Regions from separate parts of the Homo sapiens genome. Here region 1 is linked to region 2. The links come from fine-mapping of genetic effects on gene expression. A gene starts in region 2. The other region holds a variant in brackets. All regions are shown on one strand. Distances are between the middles of the regions. Region 1 overlaps MEIS1 (Meis homeobox 1). Region 2 holds the start of MEIS1-AS3 (MEIS1 antisense RNA 3).

What was found. PIP is the estimated chance that this variant, and not a neighbour inherited with it, causes the effect.
Region 1: its variant is the best candidate, but not a certain one, in a credible set for the expression of MEIS1-AS3 in gastroesophageal junction (GTEx, PIP 0.88).

The regions. Positions count from the first base shown.
Region 1 is chr2:66,472,236-66,480,572 of GRCh38, reverse strand. The region is part of intron 7 of MEIS1 (Meis homeobox 1); the gene reads right to left. Among named protein-coding and RNA genes, the nearest start is that of MEIS1-AS2, 36 kb to the right of the region's middle. The variant G/T (reference allele first, on the strand shown) is at 4,001.
Region 2 is chr2:66,428,706-66,437,042 of GRCh38, reverse strand. It overlaps MEIS1-AS3 (MEIS1 antisense RNA 3), which reads left to right and starts at 3,573. Exons shown (of 4, transcript NR_046438.2): 1 at 3,573-3,752; 2 at 5,033-5,112; 3 at 5,205-5,223. It overlaps MEIS1 (Meis homeobox 1), which reads right to left and starts at 1,918. Exons shown (of 13, transcript NM_002398.3): 1 at 1,175-1,918. The coding sequence starts at 1,186. RefSeq lists enhancers at 1,959-2,058, 1,646-2,522, 3,392-3,744, a promoter at 1,620-2,160 and a silencer at 2,767-2,866.

The sequences.
Region 1 (8,337 bases), 44 kb before region 2:
AATCTTTTTACCAAAAATATATTCTGCATTATTAAATAATTCTAGTGACTACTTAAAAGGGCATATTGAGCTAGATCTCAGCCTGTACCTTCATTGGATAAATCACATAATATCCCAGTGTGCTAAATCTCCTTGAAAGAAACTCTGGCTTAGATTCTGCCATCTCAAATTGTCCCAAACTTCTATCTAAAGAGAAATTTTAGTCACTAGTATCCCAGAGGTTTCATTATGGCCACAGCTGTTAGTAGACCACATTTTCATCCTGAGTAGCCAGGGAAATATTTCAATGCAGTATATTTTTTGCTCAGAACTCTTTGAGAACACACCAAATAGGAAATAATTAGAATAACATTTACTTATCCTCACATATTAGCATTAAATTATTGGTTGTATTAGTGGCTTGCATTTACATTAAACTTGCAAATTATATAGACCCTTATTTCTATTCTATGAGCATTTGAATTTTTTCCCTGCATGCATATCTAATCATTTGCTTACCTCTTATCACTCCAGGAACCTAGAGTTCTTAATTCCATGGATTTCCACAGGGCAAGAATCTAGGCCACCGTTTATGCACAGAAATCAATTCAGCCATCACTACACTATGCATCAAAACAACATTTTAAGAGCAAAAGTTGAAGTCAGTGGCATTGAGCCAAAGCACCTCTCCTCTGAAGGAAAATGCAGTGAGATTTTTAAAGAGCAAATAGGGCAGGTTACCGAGCCTTACTGTCTCACCAAGAAATGGGGAATCCTTCATGGCCCGGGGCTTCTTGATTCAAATCTGGAGCTTAAGACTTTGTGCCTAAAGAAAAGTGCTGATTGCCTTATCCCCCAGTGCATTTCTGGAATGTCCCATGTAAATATTCACTGGATCAATTTTCTTTCTTTGCTCCTAGTGAGATCATATTAACCAATGACACTTTTATGTTTTTAATTAAAATCAAAAAGAGCATTTTGGCACCATAAGTCTATTGCATTTTTATAAGATCTTCATCTCTGAAACACAATCTTATACTAACATGACAGTTTCAAAAAAATCATATTATCATAAATCATAGAAACATCATTGGCTTCTTTTAAATTGTATTCAATATACTAACTACACCATTCACAAATTATAACAATCTATGCAAATGTACATTAAAGCCATAAAAAGCTTTTCCAGCATATCCTTTTCCCACAGCCCAAATAAAGGTAAATTAAGAAAATCTGGCAAAAGGCGTATATGTCTATTGCCATTTCCCACAGCAAATAGGGTGTTTTCCTCTGGGAATAAAACATTTTCTTTAAACTACTGTTTATAGCCCTTATCAGCTCAACTGCAATAGAGCCATCAAGTCCAATCTCTTGTGGAAAAAAGTCAAGGTCAACAAGTACTTGCATTTTTGTTTTTTCTTTAGCTGCAATTGCTACTGACATCCAATTGGGTAATAAACATGAGGTCTGTCAAATGTTCCCAAAGAACAGGTGATCCAAAAGCTATCTCAGCACAAGGCCATTGCCAGGTAATCAAACAATCTTGTTATAACAATTATGATTTGAGTACATTTATTTATAGATGCAAACATCTGTCAGTTCTGAATGAATATTGCCAGACAATTCCCACCATTGCGGTCATAAGAATGAGGAAGTACAAGAGGGCTCTTGCTAGAGTTACTCACCAACAATAATGTGTACCCTGATGAGCAGAGTACCATCCAAAGAAAAGGCTTTCTCCTCTTATCTTTTCTATTTAAAGGCAATTTTGTGTAGCTCAATACAACCATGTCCTTTACTATGCCAGCCAGGTTCCTGAGCCCAGTTGCCTTTCTCTGCCTGAAAACCAATTCTACGGTTATGTGTGCGTGTGTCTATTTGGAATTGTTGCATTATTCCTTTAAGCCAGCATGGTTGCTACATTCAAAAACACTCCATTTGAACTTGAAAAGTGCTAGAATTTGTTTAGCACGTTTAATCCTAAAAAGTCAGATAGATGTTTGGAACAAAGACCACATAGTTCTTTCCAATTCATCATGAAGCTCACTGATATCAACAGGAGTTATGCATTTGGATCTGGGCAGCACATGGCTCCATGCCATATGCAACTTACGGATTAAAAATAGAATCTGTTCCAGCTGCAAAGTAAGACATGTTAAACTTACAGCCTCCATTTGAAATATGAAAATTAAATCTACGGACTATGGCTAGTGTCTAAGATGATGACTCTGATCCACATAATGCAAACCTATTGCTTCCATTTCAGTTATGGAAAATGAGCCTAAGGTCTATTCTTGGGGCCTAAAAGCAATGCTTCCACTTCTCGCTATGTAACTTGTATTAAGATTCCATTATTTAGTGGAGCAATTAATGTTTTCCAAAGCTGATTCCTTCACTATCAAGAGCATCAGGAAAAATGGAAACAAAGTAAAGCTAATTCTTCTAAAAACACATAAACCCACATCTTGGGGAAGAAAGTAAAAACTAAAAACAAAACAAGAAATTCTAGACACACAAAATGAAGTACGCTACTTTGAAAGACAGCTTTCAATGTAGACACACTAAGTACCAGGTGACAGTGTTTTTAGCCAAATAAATACTGTTTCAGTGTAAAAAGGTATCCTTCATTCTTTAACATTCTGGCAAAAAGTCAACGTAACCAGAGTTGTATCAGCAGGCATAACGGTATACTGTTTCTAATCCTGCATTCTATTAAGTCTTGGGCAGGTAATCTGAAGACTCTACATAGAAAGAAAAATTAGCAGCTGAGAAGTGGGAAAGGCTGAAGCACACCAGGATTAGAATCCACTGGGAGCACATAAACATGAAGGCCCATGAGGCAAAACATCTATTCTGCAAATACTCAGGAAATGTTCATCAATCAGTTGTCAAGCAAAGGGGGAAGTCACCTCATTTTCAGAGCAGTAAACTGATGAAATGAGTCACCAAATTCCCATGACAGCTTGGCTGGCCTCTTCCTTTCCACCCAGCCCCTGGTCTCCACGGAGCCGGAGCCTTCTTTGAGGGAAAGCAGTGCAGCAGAGAGAATTAGCAGGATTTCTGCAAGCCATCCTCAGGAACAGGTGGGAAAAGCATCACCTCTGCCCAGCAAGGGTGTAGGAGAAAAGCCACAGCCATCAATGACCAGCTGCATTTTCTCCCATCTAGAGTGGCAAAGCTACATTCAAAAGAAGACAAAGAAAGAGCATGCCAGTGGGACCTGTAGTCTGTGTAGTCAGTCTTCTGAAACCTTGGCATCATCCCAGAGCCTTTGCACTCCACTACCCTCTGCGTCCACTGTTTCTCTGTCCAGTCCAGTCTTCCTCCTCAAAGCTACTCTCTCTAGCCTCCTCCCTCTGCCTAAGTAAAGTTCTGCAACATTTCTGAATAACTATCATGCTGACTCCAGCCTCCCCCTGCTCCAATTCCTCCTTCACTTCCATCCAACCACGCCACAACCCTCACATTTCCAATGACTCCCTACTGCCTGCTAAACCAATGCCAGAATGACAAATATGGGCTTAAGATGACAAATATGACCCTCTGTGGTCTTGCCCCTGTTACCTCTTGGGCCTTACCTCAGACTCTTCCTCTCTCACACCCACTCTCTACTCATGCTGAAGCACACACAAAGTCCCCAAAGTGGCATGCTCTCTCTCCTTCCTACCTTTACACAAGCTAATTTTTTTTTTCCTTACATGCCCCTCTTCTCCATCTCTCCCAAGTTTCCATCATAGACTTGCTCTCTTAGGAGACTGAGTGGGAGATCAGAAATAGAAAACCAATTTCTTCTAGGGCTAACTCCGGGGGACGAGGTAGTGGTTGCTGGAGCACTGTGTGGAGAAGGACCTGCATCTGCACTCCTTTCAGGCCCCGTGACAAGGGTGCTGTGATCCATTAAAAATGGCCACCATGGAAAGGCTAGAGAGAGGCCCATCCGATGCCAGGCAGGTGCTGCCCCTGTGCCAGTTTGTTAGGTACCATTCCTCTACTTCCAAATTACTCAGAACCTGCTCACTAG[G/T]GAGACTTAACCTATGATATACTAAACTGTCTGTTCCTCCACCAGACTGTCAGTTTCTTGATTCCAGAAATGACCTCTTTCACTCTGAATTCCCACATTTAGCAGAGGACCGGTATGCAGTGGACATTTAATTAATTCAGTTAATAAATGGGAATATTTCTCTTTTCACTTCTATCTTTGGGAGTAATCCTCTCATATGCTTAAAATGTACATCAAGCAATACTTTTATTTGTAGTAAATGTATTCCTTTTACCTGAGGGGATGTTTTTGGTGCCAGGATGAGGTAAGCCAAATATTCATAACACTCAGCCCCCTCCAGCTTTATAGGCTGAAGTCATATTCCCTCAGAACTTTCATTTTTAAGGACTGCAGCATCAGAACCTTCCATTCTGGCATCCCATCTTAGCCTCTCAGCATCTCCATTCTAACCATTGTTTACCTGAATCTCTCTGGTTCCATTAACCCTGTTCCTGGGGATAATAACCAGAGTAACAACAGCATCCTCAACCCCATTCCTGACTTCAGATGGAGGGAGAAAAGACTGGAGAATGAGGCGAACCCACCAGAGAATGGTCAGAAGAAGGAGACAGACAAGAGAAGAAAGGCCTCATGGCATCACCAAATACTCAGCACCTTGGCTCACATCAAAATAGGCTGTCATTCATTTCAACCATGAAAATCAAGACTCAGATTCCAATGAGTTAAAGAAACAAAAGGATGAATATGATTACAGATACCTAGTCCAATCAATCAAATATGTATCAACAATTATTATAACTGCAGCATTGTTCTAGGAGCTGGGGAATGTAAGAGGAGTCCTACAGATGCTGTCAAGGATGCCAGCCTCTGCCATCTCCCTGGACTCCCTGTGTGAGGATACGAGGAGAATTTCTTTCAGATCTTAATGCTGGTCAAATCGATTCTTCTGAGCAACTTCCATGGATGTTGTAAATCTTGTAATTAATTATATTTCAGTCTTTGTTTTAGCTGCTAGGAAGCTCAGGGCCAAATTAATACCTATTTCTAGTCATTGTACATGATCTTATAATTTATATTGCTTGGTACTACCCTTATTTCTTGGCTTTTTGTTTATTTTGCTTTCATTCTAATTCGTTCATCTACACATTTTTTATCCTATTGTATACTATAAACTTTTATTAATTTCCTTAAATCCTTTCTTAGAATGAGAGGGAGAATATATATACATATTTATATTTATGCATATATAAATATATACAATATATAAATATGTTATTTATTAAATAAATATATAAATTTATTTTATATTTTTATATATAATATATTATATATTTATTTTATAAATAACATATTTATAAATATTTTTATAAATATACATATTTATTTATATAGGTGTGCATATTTATATTTTATATTTATAAATGATATTTATATTCATATATTTATATATATATATGTGTATATATATATGCATTTTAAAATCAATATATCCTTTTCTCCCAAGGTATTAAAGTATAAAAGGGTGTCAAGGTGCTAGCTGTCCTGGCTGTCATAAGTAGTAGGGGCACTCAAGGAAAGAGTCAAACTACAACAGTAAATGCTAATAACCTAGCAACAAGCCCATTGGCAAATTCAATATTTTCTGCATTCACTCTGTAGTTCTCTTTTTCTTAAAAATATACATTTTTTAAAAATGTAAGCTTTGCTACGTAAGGTCATATTCTCCTTTTCTTCTAATATGGAAATAAGTAACAGGAAGTTCTGCTGTCTTCATTCTTTGTTACAAAATAAAGTGAGCAACGTTAGGAGGGAATGCATATGAATTGATATTGGTAAGAGGGAGAAAGCCAAACTAATTGTACTAATCAAATAGAATGCTTTTAGGTTAAGCAATTATGGAAAACTATATGCAAGACTGAGCTAATCCACAAAGCCAGACACTTGAGCAAAACCCAACTTTACCAACTACATTTCTGGGACTAATCAATACAACAGGTAGACCATGCCTACATTTTTTTTTTCCTGAGGAAAATGCTTGGCATAAATTTACTGTTTGGGTTAGTTTTTGCTAGGCCAACAGCCAAAGCCTCTACTACTATTCTTAATTAGTGCTATCACCCATGATAAAGAGAAATAACATCAGGGGGAGAGCTAAATATCACAGCCCAGGGCAGGTAGAATCATGGCTGCTACTGGGAAGGGCATAGGACATAAAAACATCCTCCCAGGGTAGCATAGTTACCCTTGCTACAGGGTCCTGTCTCAGAATTCAGTCTCACCTCAGCCCTATAATCCCTCAAAAGATCCTCAGATGCTGCTCCTGGCATCCACCCATCTTCTGTTAGATGCTCACTGCGGGGCAGAGGGTGATGTCCCAGGGTAGGAGTACGGAGAACAAGTGATTAGGTGGATGGCATGATTTAAGGTCAAGACCTCCATATGCATGTGTTCTACATCCACGTATTCAACCAACTGAGGATAGAAGGTATTTGAAAAAAAAAATGGATGATTGCATATGTACTGAACATGTACAGACTTTTTTCTTGTCATTATTTTCTAAACAATACAGTATAACAACTATTTGCAAAGCATGTACATTGTACCAGGTATTATAAGTAATCTAGAGATTATTTAAAGTATATGGGAGGATGTGCATAGGTTATATGCAAATACTATGCCATTTAATAGCAGGGAATTGAGCATCTGAAGATTTTGTTGTCTGCGGGGTTGAGGGGAGAGGGTCCTGGAACCAATCCCTGGGGGATACCAAGGGATGGCTATACATCCCCAAACCCATTTATTTAACTTCTGACACTTAAGTTTAGAAGTTGTTAACCTGGGCTATATAGACACCTCCTCAAGGGAGATCCATGGTTAGAATTCAGGGGATATATGTACTTGAGAAGGGGAAAAAATTACATTTTTATTATCAATAACTTCAATTAGAATTAGCATTTCCTTCATGCTTGTATGTAAGTAAGTAACAAACCACAGAACTATTAGCAGGACCTGTAACTTTGTTCCCAACGGAAATCATATTTGCATATCACAATATAGTTGTTATAAATATCTTAAAACATGACTTACATTTATCACTACTTCAAAAATTCAGCAGACAACAGAATTACTAGTAGATCTTGTTATTTAAGCCTATTTAACAGAGCACTTATATTACTATATATATATATATATATATTTTTTTTTTTTTTTTTTTTGACATGGAGTCTCACTCTTGTTACCCAGGCTGGAGTGCAATGGCACAATCTCGGCTCACCGCAACCTCTGCCTTCCAGATTCAAGCGATTCTCCTGCCTCAGCCTCCCAACTAGCTGGGATTACAGGCACGCACCACTATACCCGGCTAATTTTGTATTTTTAGTAGAGATGGGGTTTCTCAATGTTGGTCAGGCTGGTTTTGAACTCCTGACCTCAGGTGATCCGCCCACCTTGGCGTCCCAAAGTGCTGGGATTACAGGCATGAGCCACCGCGCCCGGCCTTATATTACTATATTACAACTTGGCTTTAAAAAATATTTAGAAGATTGAATTTTAATACAATTCACTGCCCTTGTAGTCCTGTGGGTTTTATTTGATACATTAATAAATATATTACTCTGATAAGGTATCCATTGGCTTCACCAGACTGCCAAAGGGGTCCTCTCCTCCTCAAAATGTCAAGATTCCCTTGAAGAAGATCAATCTGAGTCAGCAGCCAGGTGACTAATGGCGGTGAACACAATGATGACCCCAATGGTTCAGACAGCAGAGGCACTGGCTGGCTCATGGCAGTGTGGAAGGACTGGACCAAGTTTCCAAGAGTGGGCTCTGGAGCCAAGTCCACCTAACAGGGCCCCATAGATGCTGAACGTCTACACCTACCAAGGTAGTGCTGTCCCTCTGCAATTTGAACCTAATACCCACCACGCTGTGTTTCATCCAGCAGGCCTGACCACGGAGTTCACCATGTCTGGGTCATTGGCATGTTGTGAAATAAATACACTCACGGCTCCCTAAGAATATCCAATATTTAGCAAATATTTTACTTTGATATGCTTGATGTTCTTGGTAGCACACAGGAACTTCCTAAGGGCAAATACTATGACCTACTCATTTTTATAGCTCACACAGAGTACCTGGCACACAGTAAGTGCTTAATCTATTTTTGATGACTTGACTAGAATGTATAAATTTACATTCCCATCCCCCGCTTAAACACAACTCATGATAATATTTTGGCTCATCTGCAGGAGAGATTATAATTCTAAACTCTTTTTATCTCCTTGGGCTACATTAAATGGATGCTTCCCTAAAATTAACTTCCTCACTTCTGCCTTGCCAAGAATGACACCATGTGAAGA
Region 2 (8,337 bases):
AAGAAAATCTATAGTTGAAGCAGCTAATATTCTATTTTCTTATTTACTCTTATGAACTTTGTTTCCAGACTAGAAGTCAAGGAGGCAAATGTTACTCACCAGGTTTAAAGCAAATTCAAAAGCAAATGCACAACTTTCCATCTTCCTCTTCCAGAAAAAAAAAAAAAAAACTACTTTCATATTGATTGTCATTATTTTGTGTGTGTGAAATTTAGCTATTTAGGTTTTTCTAATTGGTTCATTCCAGGCAGTTATTTTCCCAAGATTTGGAGGCGCTGAGAGTGAAATGATTTTCAAAGAAAGGAGGAATTGCCACTTTCATCTCCTTAAAGCCAGAGGTGTGAAAAGAGTTTGGAAGAACGCTGACATTTGCCTGAACCAAAGGAGTAAAGAAAACTGTGTCAGCCTAGTAACTTTCTTTTGCAAACAGGGCTTTGAGGGCCAGGACACAAATTATGCAAGGAAGGCTTTTTGTAGACCCCCTTTCTTTTAAGAAACTACCTCAGTTGGGTTGTCATTGTCTCACTTTACTCTCACTGCATTTCCATTGAAAAAGGAATATGGGGAAATTAGTATTGCATTTTTAAAGTGAGTAACTGTGTGCTTAGTATTCAATTAGTAGAGGGCTTATCTAAGAGAAACTTGCAAAATATTGCCTTGTATACAAGTCTATACAAATTGAAATTACTATAAAAAGATGAATGTTTTCTGACCAAAAAATTGGCTATACTATGACAAAGTTATTTCCTTTAAAAAGCTGAATACTTCTAGTGATATTAAAGATGAGCATAATCAATAACATATCAGAAGTTTCCAGCTGCATATTTTAGTTTAAACATAACTTTAAACTTCTGATCTCTGAATGTTCAAATTACAGCTTTAGGTATCTAGCTTTTTTAAAAAAAAACCCAGATGATTGTTTGAGCTTGCATTTTTATTTATATAGCTGCTGGTTAGGAATCTATAGATAAATAGATTCCTTTAATTAACAACTCCAAGTAACATACATAAGTCTACAAATGCATTGAATAAATCCTCTCGCTTAGGCCACGGCTTTAGGAGCCTCATTTTTTAAAAGAGAGAGAGAAAAAAAGGAAACTTTTTAGCAGTGTCTTTCGGCCACGTTTCAATTTAATCTCACATTTGAGTTCCACAATTGTTTTTTAATACGTACCCTTTGCGCCATCGGCCTCTCTGGCTCCCTTCCTACTTCAACTTCTAATATATCCTCTTTAAGGCCAGTGTGAAAAGAAACAAATATTCAAACTCCCCCGGAAAAAAAAAAAAAAAAAAAAAAAAGCACGACGAAAAATCCCTTAACGTCTCCAGCAACGTGAGCTACTGGTCCCAGATCTTCGGTCTACGGGACCTGAAGCAAAGCGCCCGAGTCACTGAGCATAAAAGCGCTCCGTTTCCAAGACAGCAGCGGGGGCAAAAAAAAGCAGATCTTCTCTCCCCCAAAAATCAGTTTAAAAAAAAAAAAAGAAAGAAAGAAAGAAAAGGAAAAAAAAGAGCGCCCCTCAGACCCAACTACCAAATCTCATGGCTTTCTGCCACTCCAGCTGTCAATCACAGGCGAGGTTGTCAACGTGGTGAATGAATGATCATCCGCTCTGTCTTCTTCTGGTCAGAACACCTCAAATGTTAATATTCAAATGCACAAAGCCCTAGCGCTCGCTTCCCTTGAATCAGTCCTAATTCCTAATCAGTTTCTCTCTTCTCTCTCTCTCTTTCTTTCTCTCCCTCTCTCTCCCTCTTTGCAAGTGCTGCACTGGAAGGAGATTAGAGAAGGAGGGTTAAAAAAAATGTCTGTCTGAGTTTGTCTTAAAGGAGCCACGATCGATGCTGCCCGCTTGCAGTCCCCGTGCGTGTGTAAAGTGTGTGTTGCACAGGCGGAGAGGTGGATTCCGACCAGAATGCTAGAACCCGGAAGTAGTGGTGGCCATAACAGGTCGCGTCTTACACAATGCATTGGGCTGCAGCAAGTAGGCTCCTCGGCAGGGGTGGGTGCGCGAAGCGAGCTCTGGCCGCACTGGAGAGGCAGAGAGGCGCTCCATTAAATCGCACGCCCAGGCACAAACACCACACACCCAGGGCACACGCACACAAACGCAGGCAGTAGCCCGCGGCCGCCAGCTTTATTTTCAGTATTCTTTTCTCTCCCTCCCCCTGCAGACTCTCTCCCCAAAGCCGACTCTCTTGAAATAAATTGGGAATCAACGCCGGGCAGGCAGCAGCGGGAGTTATTTTGCACAGGGCTCCGCGCATAGACTTCATGACTTTCCTCGAAATTATTGGGGTCTGCCAGTGTTTTTCGGGGCAGGGGGTGATGCGCAAAGTACTGAATTCTCAGAACTAAACACTGCAAGGAGAAAAGTCAAAGCGGGATCGTGGAGGAAAAGGAGGGAGAAGCCAGGTTGGGAAAGCCTCTGCTAAGGAGTCCTGAGAACATGGGGTTGAGGTGGCTCGGGCTTTCTGCAGACCCAGCTTAGAGGTTTCTTTGCTGTTAGAGGTGGACGCCCGGCCGGGGGAAAGAAAATGCTAGCATTTTGTCACTTCGGGTCTGGACTCCCCCACCTCCTAGCCCCGGCGGCTCCCAGCCCCAGCCCAGGCGTCCTGCGCGAAGTAGAGAGGAAGGGAGGGAACAATGAGCTGAGCGCGGGGAATGTGCCCCCAGCGCCTGTTTACAAACACCAAGCTATTTATGATCGTCGGAAAGCGAAACCCGGCGCGGGCTCGCAGCAGCCCAGACCTCGCGGGCGGAGCCGGGGCCGGGGAGCCGCTGGGAGGGAGGCTCTTTCTCCGACCCGCTCGGGGTGAGGCGGCCGTGCGCCCAGGGCGCGGCGCGGCGCGGCGCGACGCTGCCGGAGTGCTAGGCTCCGGCTGCAGCCACCGCTGCCTTTGTCTTAGAGGCGCCGAGGGGCTCCAGCCTCGACCTCTCCCGGGCCTGTAAGAACCTCGCGCCCCACTAGCTCTTTCTCCAGCGAAGCCCTGCCCTCACCACCCCAGACATCCTTCCCCGCGCTCCTCTTTCCCGTCCCCAACCCGGCTCGGCGAAACCTCCCAGTGCCAGAGAAAAAGAAATCCGCTTCGGAAGCTGAGATTTCAGACAAAAGCTGCCTGTACCTACAACTCGGAGGCTCCAACCAACCACTGTTTTTTGTTTTGTTTTGTTTTTAACTTTAACACCTATTGCCTGGGCTTTAATTCCCCCTCACCCCTTCTCTTTATTCTCCCGCTCTAAGCTTCTCCCTTGTGATTATATTTAGTGGCGTTATTTTCGTATTTATATTTCTGTCCGCTGGGCTCTGATCTGCCGAGATGGCTCAGCCGCAGCAGCTCTACCAGTGGCTGGAAACCTCACATCCACAAGCAGGGCTCGCAGCTCGCTCGGCTCCGAGAGGATTTTTCCCCCTCCCTCCAGCTGAAACCTCGCAGAAAACTCCCCCTGCGGTCGACTGGAAAATGAGCTCACCCAAATCTCGGTAGGCAGCCGTGGAGGAGTGCTCGGCCAATCAGGAGGCGCCCCCGCCCAGGCCGCCGCGCATTGGCTGCGGGGAAAATCAATTATCAAATAATCGATCAGCAGGGAGCTTCGATCTGCGGGGAATGCGAACTGCCAGTCCCTATTCCCGCCCTGAAGGTGGCCAAAAGGCTGACTCCCTCCAAGCAGCCCGCCCGCGCCTCCATCGCCCCCACCCACGTCCCACTCGCCAGCTGCGGACTGAACCCTCACCCTCAAGGGGGTGTAGGTAGGGAAAGAGTTTTGAGCAAGATTGGGGGTATCCCTTCATCCGAAGATTGTTTGGGAAAGGTTAGGAGCTCTAAAATGTATTGAAGCCAACTCTTAAGCGCAAAGTAAAAGATAATTTGCGTCCGTCTGCGAGGTAGGACTGAAGATTCTATAGAGTGGGCTTCCGAGGAGCAGGAGACACAGGGCGAGCATGAGAACATAGGTCTGGAATGAGGTTCCACCGAGCGTCCGTAGTCTCCTTAGGCGACATCTATCGCTTCCTTTAGCACTTCGCAGGAGTCAACGCGGGGTTGGTTGCCCCCAACAGTGGAGCGTTTCCATAAAGCCGAGCAGATGAGCCTTCCCAGCCGCCTGCACTGCACCCTTCCCCGCCCCCAACTCCGTACTGGCACCCTGTGTGCCTGAAGGGCTGACACACGTTCTCCCAAAACCTTCAGAAGCGCTTTGCCTTGAAAGAGCTCTCCCTCGTGTGTGTGTGTGTGTGTGTGTGTGTGTGTGTGTGTGTGTGTGTGTGTGTGTGTTTAAACCATCTCCAGGATCCCTTATCATTTGCTTCCTCTCTCCTTTTTCTCTCTGTTTCTCCCTGTCTTTTTTCTGACGCTTAAGTTTCAGGATCTTTTAGTTTTTTTCCATCACATACATGTGTAGGTTTTCTGGTACAAACGCCCTGAAACATCACTTGGGAGGTTAAGACAGGCCCGCGAGTAAAAGCTGGGGACGGAGTGGGTGGGCAGCCAGGTGCATTACCAGCGCCTTTATGCCTCTGCCTACACTTCCCGGCCTCCCCCCATCCCCCCACCCCCCCACCCCACGCCTCACCGTCGCTCCCCGGCCCCACAACATGAACTTGGAAGCAGAATTTCAGGCCAAGATGGAACCTCCCCGTCTCAGGAAGGCGATTTCTGTTTAATCCTTGGGAGGCTGCGCTGGCTGGGCCAGGCAGCACGCTCCTTTTCCGATTAGGGAAAGGACTAAGCTGGGCCGGCAGTCTGCGACCCCTTCCCGGAACCCCAGCCGACTTCGGGGTATACCTGAGCGCCTTCCGATGGCTGCTCGCGGGGGTGTGATCATCGTCCCCGCATCAGGCCCGCCAGGCATCTGCGCGACTCGGGGGTAGGAGGGAGATGCGTGGGTGGGAGGTGGGGGTCAAACCAAACACCGACAGGGCACACCTACGTTTATGATCCTTAAATGAACTGCGAGGGAAATTGTGTAAGTATAATTTAACTGAGAGAAATTTATTGCGAAATACGCTTAGAGGACTGTGGTCTTTAACAGCCTCAGGGGTTCTTCGGCAAAGAGGTAACGGGGCTTGGATTTACCACAACTCTGCGGCCACGTTTTCAAATTTGGAAAAGGTCAGTATATATATATATATATATATTTGACAACAGGATTTATTTTGTATTGTTGCTTTCCGGTAATCTTTTTCTTTTGTTTTCTAGCACAGATGAGAAAAGAAGGTTCAGGTAAGTCACCCTTTGCAAACATAACCAAAATCTTCAAAGCAGGAGGAAGACTAGACGACTGCATGCTTTAACCATGATGTGCCAGATTACCTTAAAAATGTACTTTAAATTACCTACACACAAATTTTCCTTAAAGAATGAGATAGTTTGAGTTTGCGGACTTAAAATCAACTCAGTAGTTTTGAAAAGTGCCCCTCCCCCCCCCCACAGTCTTTCCATTTTAAACTGTGAACCTAATATAACTTCTAGGCCTTTATACAATTAATTCTGAACAATCAAGGGACTAAACACTTTTACAATGTAATTACAGTAGTACAAATTGTTTGCCCAAACCTCATTCTGGATAAGGATTTTACAATTAGCAAACAGTTATTACAGTTGGGGCTTGCTGAGAGAAATTGCACAGAGGATGTCTAGAGTTGCAATATAGTAGCCATAAAAAAAAAAAAAACTCCTTTAGCAGGGCAGCAATTAATCATCTATTAAAAGGAAACAAATGAAGGGACAGGTCTAGGTATCTTAGTAAACTACTGTCAATATTTATGCCCATTTTTTGACAGCCCCTATTCCTAACTTATTTCAGATACTTGCTTTTTTAAGGCAATAGCACTTTTATTTTGCAAAAACTTGGCCTGGTGAAAACTTCTGGCACTTGGCCCTAGCTCTTGCGATTCAGGCCTTCCGTTCTCTTCTCATCCTTCTTATCTCAGAGCATCTTTCCAGAGATAGAGAACGGTGACAAAAGGAGGCAGACTGGGCCCTTGGTCTCTATTGTTTACACCCTCCTGTATGGAGGCATTTCAAGCCCTCAGTGCTCCTCTGAGCTGCTGGTAAAGTCGTCTCGGAGAACTCCCCTGACTTTATGTTCTATAAGGAATTGTGCTTCTGGAAAGATCTATATCCTAAATTAGGCTTTTGTCCCAAAAGGTCACACTGATGAGTCAGCTCCAAAACCCTTAGAAACTAAAGAGGCACCTCTTAAGGTAAAACGTGTGTGTATTTGCCAGCCCAGAATAAACAAAAGCCTGTTAATCAATCGAGTTTGGCAGCTGTGTTCACAAAATGATAAGGGTTTATCATTTGCCACCAAACTTTAAGATGTCCCTTAAAATGCTGTGATTGGTTTTTAGGTTGTCCTGTGGTGTGGAGGCTTGGCGTTTGTATTTCAAAAACATTCATCCTCTGCATCTCTCCCCCTCACTAGCATTGACATTTCAAAAAAACAGAAATAAGAGGAGGGAGGGAAAGATAGTTTAAAGAAAATAGATTCGAAATCTAGTACAGATAATAGAGGAATGCTGGAGATAAGAGCCTGGAGGTGATATGAGAAAGGCACCAAGAAGTCAAAGCTAATGAATGGCTGTGAGAAAAGTGAAATAAACTATTGAGAGATCTATTAAAGGGGGAAACCTGGTTAGGTGATATCAAAGGGGGTTAACTGAGAGGATTAGGGAGGATGTTAATCAAGTGCTCTAAAGCATTACAGGCTATAAGGACTGAAAGATTTGTTTACTGCATTTTGCTTCAGAAAACAAAGAATGTCTGGGTCCAGTTCAGAAGTCAATTAGAGGTCAGCTTAGGCTCTCCAAGGGTTGCAGGGAAAATACCTAAGTTACTATATTCTGACTGGATGATGCAAAAATTAGGGAAAAAAAATGGGGGGTGAGAGGGAGGTGCTTTCCTTACTATTCTATTTCAAATCATTAAAATGCTTTGGTCTCTAGGGGGGAAAAAACTACACTGGTTAACATAATTACTAGCTCTGACATTTTCAGAAGTTATAGAGGTCTTTTATTAATTAAATGGAGGGCTTAATAAAGTATTCCTAATAAAATTTATGGTTGTCTTAAAACTTTCTAAACAGTGCTATAAATTCTTAATAAAATTAACTGGGAAATGAGTTATTAGCCCACACTTTACCCTCCCCCCCAAACTGCTACATAAGGAGTGTCTGCAGAATGAAAAGGAAATAGAAGCCTTTTAGTAAAATATAAATATTAGCCAAAGTCATGCATTGCTCTGAAAGAGGCAAAGTCCCAACTGTTGTTTCTACTGGCCTCATTCTCCAATATCCCCCAAAAGCTATCCCACAAAACTTCATCAAGAGAATTTATTCCCCTTCCCAAGTACCTATTATATATGCATTTATGTGTAAGTGCATTTGAAATACAACCTTCAATTTTGTGGACTGAGTTGTATGTTAAATGTAGTAAAAAACATAGATGCATCATGCAAAGTTCCGCTATAGAATCTTCAAGTCTCACGGTGCAAATACTTTCTTTATTTTTAATTAAAAATAAAATGCCCTGTAATTTCTCTCACTTTAATTTCTATAAAGATAACTTTTAAATGATAAATTTCTAAATAACATTTTTCTCTGAAGTTATTTAAAAGTGTATTTTCTGAAGCAACATTTTGTTGACATATGCAAAACCTTTTTATATCATTACGTTTCAAAACTTTTAGTGAGTTATCTTAAGTTTTCAGGTACTTCACTGCTTCACAGATACAATGCTGGCTGGTTAGCTATTTTAAAGAAGATCACACACATACACTTCAAACCACAGCAGCCTTGGTGAATTGTTTAGCATTTGAAGGCTTGATCTTTTGTGCCGTCTACTGGACAATAGAAAAACTGCAGCCTTGATGACAAACTTTAATCTTGTTTTACGGGGGTGGGAGGTGGTGGTTGGGGGTATGATTTGGTGCTGGTAACTAACAAGAGAAAACCACAGTACCCAACTTAGACTCATAGGACAGGTCTTGGGGTCTAACCATGTTTTTCAAATCCAAAGATAGGATATGATATCAATCATAGGTGTATAGCTCAAACACTTGATTAAGGCACAAGGCTAAAACCTACATTGAATACAGCTGTGCATGTGTGTGTACCCATATGCCTAAACTTGGGAAGACAGCCTGGGAAAAGAAAGGAAGATAGGACAGATTCAACAACTCTGAAAACAAAAACAAAAACAAAAAACAAAAAACAGTAGTGGTTGCTTGACACTGAGGATGAATTTGCTTGACAGTCAAGTTAAATCTATCTACTGCCTCGATAATCTAGCATGTACAAATCAGTTCTTGGAATTTGGAAAGTGACATTGGTAATCA